2 separate regions of the Homo sapiens genome follow, and region 1 is linked to region 2. A link means that fine-mapping ties the variant in region 2 to the expression of a gene that starts in the linked region. Tissue or cell type: prefrontal cortex. Region 2 holds a variant in brackets; the other region holds the start of a gene. All regions are shown on one strand. Distances are between the middles of the regions.

Region 1 (2,755 bases), 29 kb before region 2:
ACTGGACAGCTCAGACCCAGGTATCAACTGGACTGATGAAGTGGTTTCCTAACTTAAACTAAAACTTAAATTTTAATAAAAAAATGTGAAACGTTTTTATGAACCTCCAATATGATCGCAGTATTACTTTTAGTACCTGTTGACTCTGTAAAACTCCTAAATTACAACTTATCTACATACATTTGAAAAATAGAAATAGCTGTACGTGTGAGATAGGACTGGTTCTAGATGACACCTGGAGACCCCATGAACTTACAGAGACCCTTCCAGTGATTTCTGAGTTACCTGGGAATCTGTGGCTAATAAATTGGCAATCACTGAATTAGTGAGTTATTTTAGGAAATCGGGCTGCATAAAATCTGACAGCTTGATTAAAAAAAAAAAGCGGAGCAGGATGCCATTTCATTCAATTAAGGTACTGTATTCATTCCGTTGAATAAATATTTGTGTCTGTCTACGATGTGCTAGGCACTGTGCCAGTAAGTGGATACAGCTATTATCTGACTTGCAGAGGAAATCCAAACTATTATCTTCCGCGCCACGCAATAAGGGCGACATTGGAAGGCTGCACAGGGTGCTACTGGAGCACGGAGGTGAGTCAGAGGCTTCCCACAGACACACACCAGCGGAAACAAAGTCTTTATGTATTACCATAATGTCAAGAACACTGGCCAGGAGTTAGGAGAGCTGGGCGCTAGGAACGCTTTGAAACCGAATAGCTGTGTGATTTCAGAGATTATGTTTCTTCTCTGCTATATTTTAGTTCAGCACTTGTACTAATGTTTCTCTCCCTGTCTTTCTTCTTGGTGGGAAAAGCACAATTTGGGGTCAACAGATCCAGCTCAGGTCTAAGTCTCCTACCGGGACCACGTCGCCAGGAAACGACGTCGCCCAGCCACCTTCCCTCCCCGTCTGGGCTCTCTGCAGGGATTCATCACGTCACTCACCCAACTACCCCAGGACACCTCCGCCAGATGAGAAATATGCCGCTCCTCGGGAGCAAAGATGACCCGGAGGACCGGGGGAGGACCTTCCCACACGCACGACTCGCGATCTTCCCAGTGCCCCAGAACCAGGGACCCCACCGCCGCCTACCCCAACCCGCAGCACCGAACCTGCTCGCAGCCGCGACTCCTCAGGTCAGCATGGACACCGCCGGAAACGGAAATTCACAGTCGCGCTGACTCGCCGGAGGGAAACAAGAAGGCAGAAAAAAGAGACCGGCATGGGGACGGCTTTCAGGGGAGAGCCTGAAGAAAGAGGGCTGAACAGCTGAGTGCGGACGCAGGCGCCGTCCGCGCAGTGCGTTCCACCGGGTCCAGGTCCTTCCAGATTCCTCTCCACCCCGCCCTCGGAATCCGCGGCCTCAACTTCCGCGGTGGGACTCCGGAGCAGCGTGCGCCGCGCTCGCCTGAGTTCTCGCCGAAGGCCAGGGCGGCTCTGCGGCCTGGCGCCGGTTAGTTAGTGTGGTGCAAAAGCCGGAAGGAGACACATTTGGTCCTGGCCTCCCGGCAGTCACCGTGCCAAGGACGAATGGACTATCGCTTGATTTGGAGTACACTTCCTCCTCTTTAAAGATTACAGATGAGGGGGATCTCGCGTTCTGGGGTGCCCTAAAGCCCTCTTTTGGCAGGGCGCAGTGGCTCACGCCTGTAATCCCTACACTTTGGGAAGCCGAGGAGGGAGGATTGCTTGAGCCCAGGAATTCAAGACAAGCCTGGGCAACATAGGGAGCCTACCTCTCTCTCTTAAAAAAAAAAAAAAAAAAAATTAGCCGGCATCGTGCCGGGCGCCTGTGGTGCTTGTGGTCCCAGCTACTCTGGAGGCTGAGGTGGGAGGATCGCTTGATCCCAGGAGGCGGAGTCTGCAGTGAACTGAGATGAGCCACTGGACTTCAGCCTGGGCAACAGAGCAAGACACTGTCTCTAAGAAAAATAAATAACATAAGGCCCTCTTTTGCCAGGACCAACAAACCGTGAGGGCAGGGACAAACTGACCCAGCCTAAACTGCCTCGCCCTCCCTAAACCCGGGAAAGGGGCTTTACCTGAGTGAACGTAGCATCTTGCCGTTTTCTTACTGCACAGCTTTACCTTCCCAGGGATCCGCCCATTGCCACCTGAGGAAATGCCTTGGAGTCCATCTAATCCCCAGCCCAGCTACTTGGGAGCCTACAGAGCGTACATTGTCAGAGGATGCATCTTCCTTTAGTCTTGGAGGGTTTCTTTTCAATATGATCCCGCTGGTGCATTCAAGGCTCAATTCTACACCAAAAACTAGGCCCACTCCTGTCACGAGAACCCCAGGCGTCAGGTCTTCTCACAGGCACCTTGTTCTTGCCCTCAGCAGCCCCCAGGTATTCACTCTGCATATTCTAGATACTGGGTGCTGGACTTGGGAGGCTACCCACGTGGCACATGCTTCCCTTATCCCTGAAGAGCTTAGAGTGTTGTAACTTCTTCACACTACACCTCTTACTTCTTGAAGATTTCAGTATCCAGGTAGATAATCCTTCCAACATCCTTTTGGTCTCATGAAGCCCACTCCTGTCCTCTGCCCTACCTCAGCTTCCCCCTCCCTCCATGATCAGACCTTAGACCTTGTCAGGTCCAAGGACTGCAACCCCCACAGTATCCCACTCTGACCAGGTCTATCTATCCTCCTATCTGTCCAGGTCACTCCCTATACTGCCCTGAAACAAAACTCCTGCAACCTTACCAGCACCTCCAATCAAGATCTTACTACTTGTTCACTGTT
Region 2 (2,755 bases):
CACCCCAAGTACGCGCCGGGCTTCTCCATGACAGCTGCGGCCCGGGCTGCCTGGGGCCTGGGACTCCGGCGCGGTCCGGCCGCGAGAAAGGCAGGCGCTGCCCCAGTGGGGAAGGGGCAAGGCTGCGGCTCCGGCCACCGGGCGGGGGCACAGAAACGACCCCGGCGCCGTCTGAGCGCCCAGCTCCGTTCCTGCCGCGGCCAAAAGACACCCGAGAGCGCCGGCGGCTGGGGGACCACAGGGCCCTGGAACTCACCAGGCGGCCTCGCGGCGCAAAAGCGGGCGGAGCCAGAGAAGGGGCTCGGCTAGGCGGCCACGCTCCCTCCCCGGAGGGCGGCGGGACTCGGATTTCGCCTCTGGTTTAAAAATTGTGCCTGCGGAGCCCAGGACGCTGGGAGGAGCGTTCTGCGCTCCTCCGGTCGCGGTCTCCGCACTAAACCGACTTCCAGAGCCGCCTCTGCTCCCTGTAGTGGCGGAGGGGCGGGCACCGAAGTCCCACCAAGTCGCAGGTCCTCAGCCTGGGGCATGCTTGCTATGCTCCGGATGCAGGGGGGTACTCTGCCTCTCTGCTCCCTGGGGGCCAAGGCGTGCGCTGCAGGCTGGAGCTGCGGCTCCGAGGCTTCCAGGAGCCCCGGCCCCGCCGTCGGTGGAGAAACGCTGGGGGCTTCGAGGTCGCGGCTTCCGGAAATCCGGTTACTGAGCGGAGTTGGGGGTCAGGTTCCAAAGGGATAGCGCCCCGGGTTGTAATCACCATCTGGCCCGCCGCTCCTGCCGCCGCGAGTCTACAGCGGAGCTATTGGGTGGACCAAGCGGGTGAGGCGCGGGCAGGCAGCGGCTCCGCCTCGTAATCCTCCTCCGACCGGTGCCCAGGGGCTGGCCCCACCTTTCCCTCGGTCACCCACCAACGCCGCTCCCTCGATCCCCAGCACCCCTCCAGGCCCAGTTCGCTTCAGAGGCGCGAGACCCGGAAAACAAGGAAGAAGCGAGCTCAGCCTCAATCCCCGTCCCCACCCCACTTTCGGGGCCGCTGCGCTGGAGAATTGAAGGGGGCGGACCCCGGATTAAAGCCGCTCCCTTCCCAGCCTCGCTCCTCTTTCCTTCTGTCCGTGATGATTTCTTTATTGTCAGGCGAGAGCCAGGCTCCCCGCGCTCACGGGACCGGGCGGTTGGGAGCGGGTTCTGGAGCTCACGCCTGGCGTCGGCGGAGGTGACCCCAGCGCCCTCGCCCGTGCAGGGGAAACAGCTGGTTCCCGCCCGGATGGGGAAACCTGGACTGCGTGGGCTCGGG[C/A]GCCTGGCAGGCATGCGGGGCCTCTAAGGCTTGGCCACTGTCACGGGTCCTGTGGTTGTTGCTTCTCCCCTCGCCACGCCCTTCTCCTGGGACGGAGATTCATTCCCTGGCGGGTGTCGGGGACCTGGGCGCAGATTCATTCCCTGGTGGGTGTCGGGGACCTGGCGCTCTTGCAGGGACGCCCCCCGGAGTCTGATACGTGGACTTTAAGATCAGACGCTTCGGGGCCGGGCTGGGAAAAACTGGCGGAAAATATTACAACTCTACTCTCAATGCCAGGCTGTTGTAGAAGCTCCTGGGACAAGCCGTGAAGTCTCCGCAGGAGGCTTCAGAGATATACTAGGCGGCTGCTCAGTTCGCCAAGGACTTTTCCATTGACTCACAAGCGCCGCCTGGAGGAGGAGGCCGCGCTGGACGCGCCGGCGGCGCCTTTGCCTGGGGGAGCGCAGCCCGGAGCTGTGGCGTGGCCGCGCTGGGAGCGGCGTGTCAGAGGCTGGGCCTGGGGACCCGAGGTTGGGCGGGGCGCAGGAGGTGGGCTCAGGGCTCTCCAGAGCACTCCCCTGAGCTGACCCGCAGGACTGCCGGGCCAGTAGGCACGGGGCCCGCGCGGTGACCTGCGGCCTCGAGGCTGGAGCAGCCACTGCAAACGCCGCGCTGGCCCCAAACACTGCGTCCTTGAAATGTTTTAATTAAGAATAATTAATAGGGCCGGGAGTGGAGGCTCAAGCCTGAATCCCCAGCACCTGGCGAGGCCGAGGAGGGAGGATCCCTTGAGCCCAGAGGTTCAAGACTAGCCTGGGCAACACAGTCAGACTCCATCCCTACAAAACAAACAAACGAAAATAAAACAAACGAAACGAAATGAAATTAGCCCGGCGTGGTGGCGCGGGCCTGTGGTCCCAGCTCCTCGGGAGGCTGAAGCAGGAAGATGGCTTGCGACCGCACCACTGCGCTCCAGCCTGGGAGACAGAGCAAGACCCTGTCTCGAAAAATGTGTATGTCTGGGTAAATGTATAGATTTTAAAACTATTTTGAAGGCGGCCTTTTTAACTCTAAACTGACCACTCTGGAGGAGACGCCTGACCCAGAGCGCTTTCCCTAAAGTTCGGTGCCCAAAGTGCACCTTCCCATGGTTGGGGTCTCTGCCTTTCGCCAAGCCTTGCCTCTTGCAGAGGTGGGCTCCATAGTGTCTCCCGCTCCGCCCCAACTGGAGAACAGTGTAAATTGTCGGCCGGGCGCGGGACCTCATGCCTGTAATACCAGCACTTTGGGTGGCTGAGGCGGGCAGATCGCTTGAGGTCAGGAGGTCGACACCAACCTGCCTAAACATGGTGAAACCCCGTCTCTACTAAAACTACAAAAATTAGCCGGGCGTGGTGGCGGGCGCCTGTAATCCCAGCTACTCAGGAGTCTGAGGCAGCAGAATTGCTTGAATCCGGGAGGCGGAGGTTGTAGTGAGCCGAGATC

Evidence for each region. PIP is the estimated chance that this variant, and not a neighbour inherited with it, causes the effect.
Region 1: BMS1 starts here. The variant in region 2 is fine-mapped to the expression of BMS1 in prefrontal cortex (GTEx, PIP 0.94).

Annotation. Positions count from the first base shown.
Region 1 is chr10:42,781,191-42,783,945 of GRCh38, reverse strand. BMS1 (BMS1 ribosome biogenesis factor) reads right to left here and starts at 1,151. Exons shown (of 23, transcript NM_014753.4): 1 at 1,116-1,151. RefSeq lists an enhancer at 971-1,320.
Region 2 is chr10:42,752,263-42,755,017 of GRCh38, reverse strand. It overlaps LOC283028 (a long non-coding RNA gene), which reads left to right. Exons shown (of 1, transcript NR_136644.1): 1 at 1-2,755. Among named protein-coding and RNA genes, the nearest start is that of BMS1, 29 kb to the left of the region's middle. The variant C/A (reference allele first, on the strand shown) is at 1,289.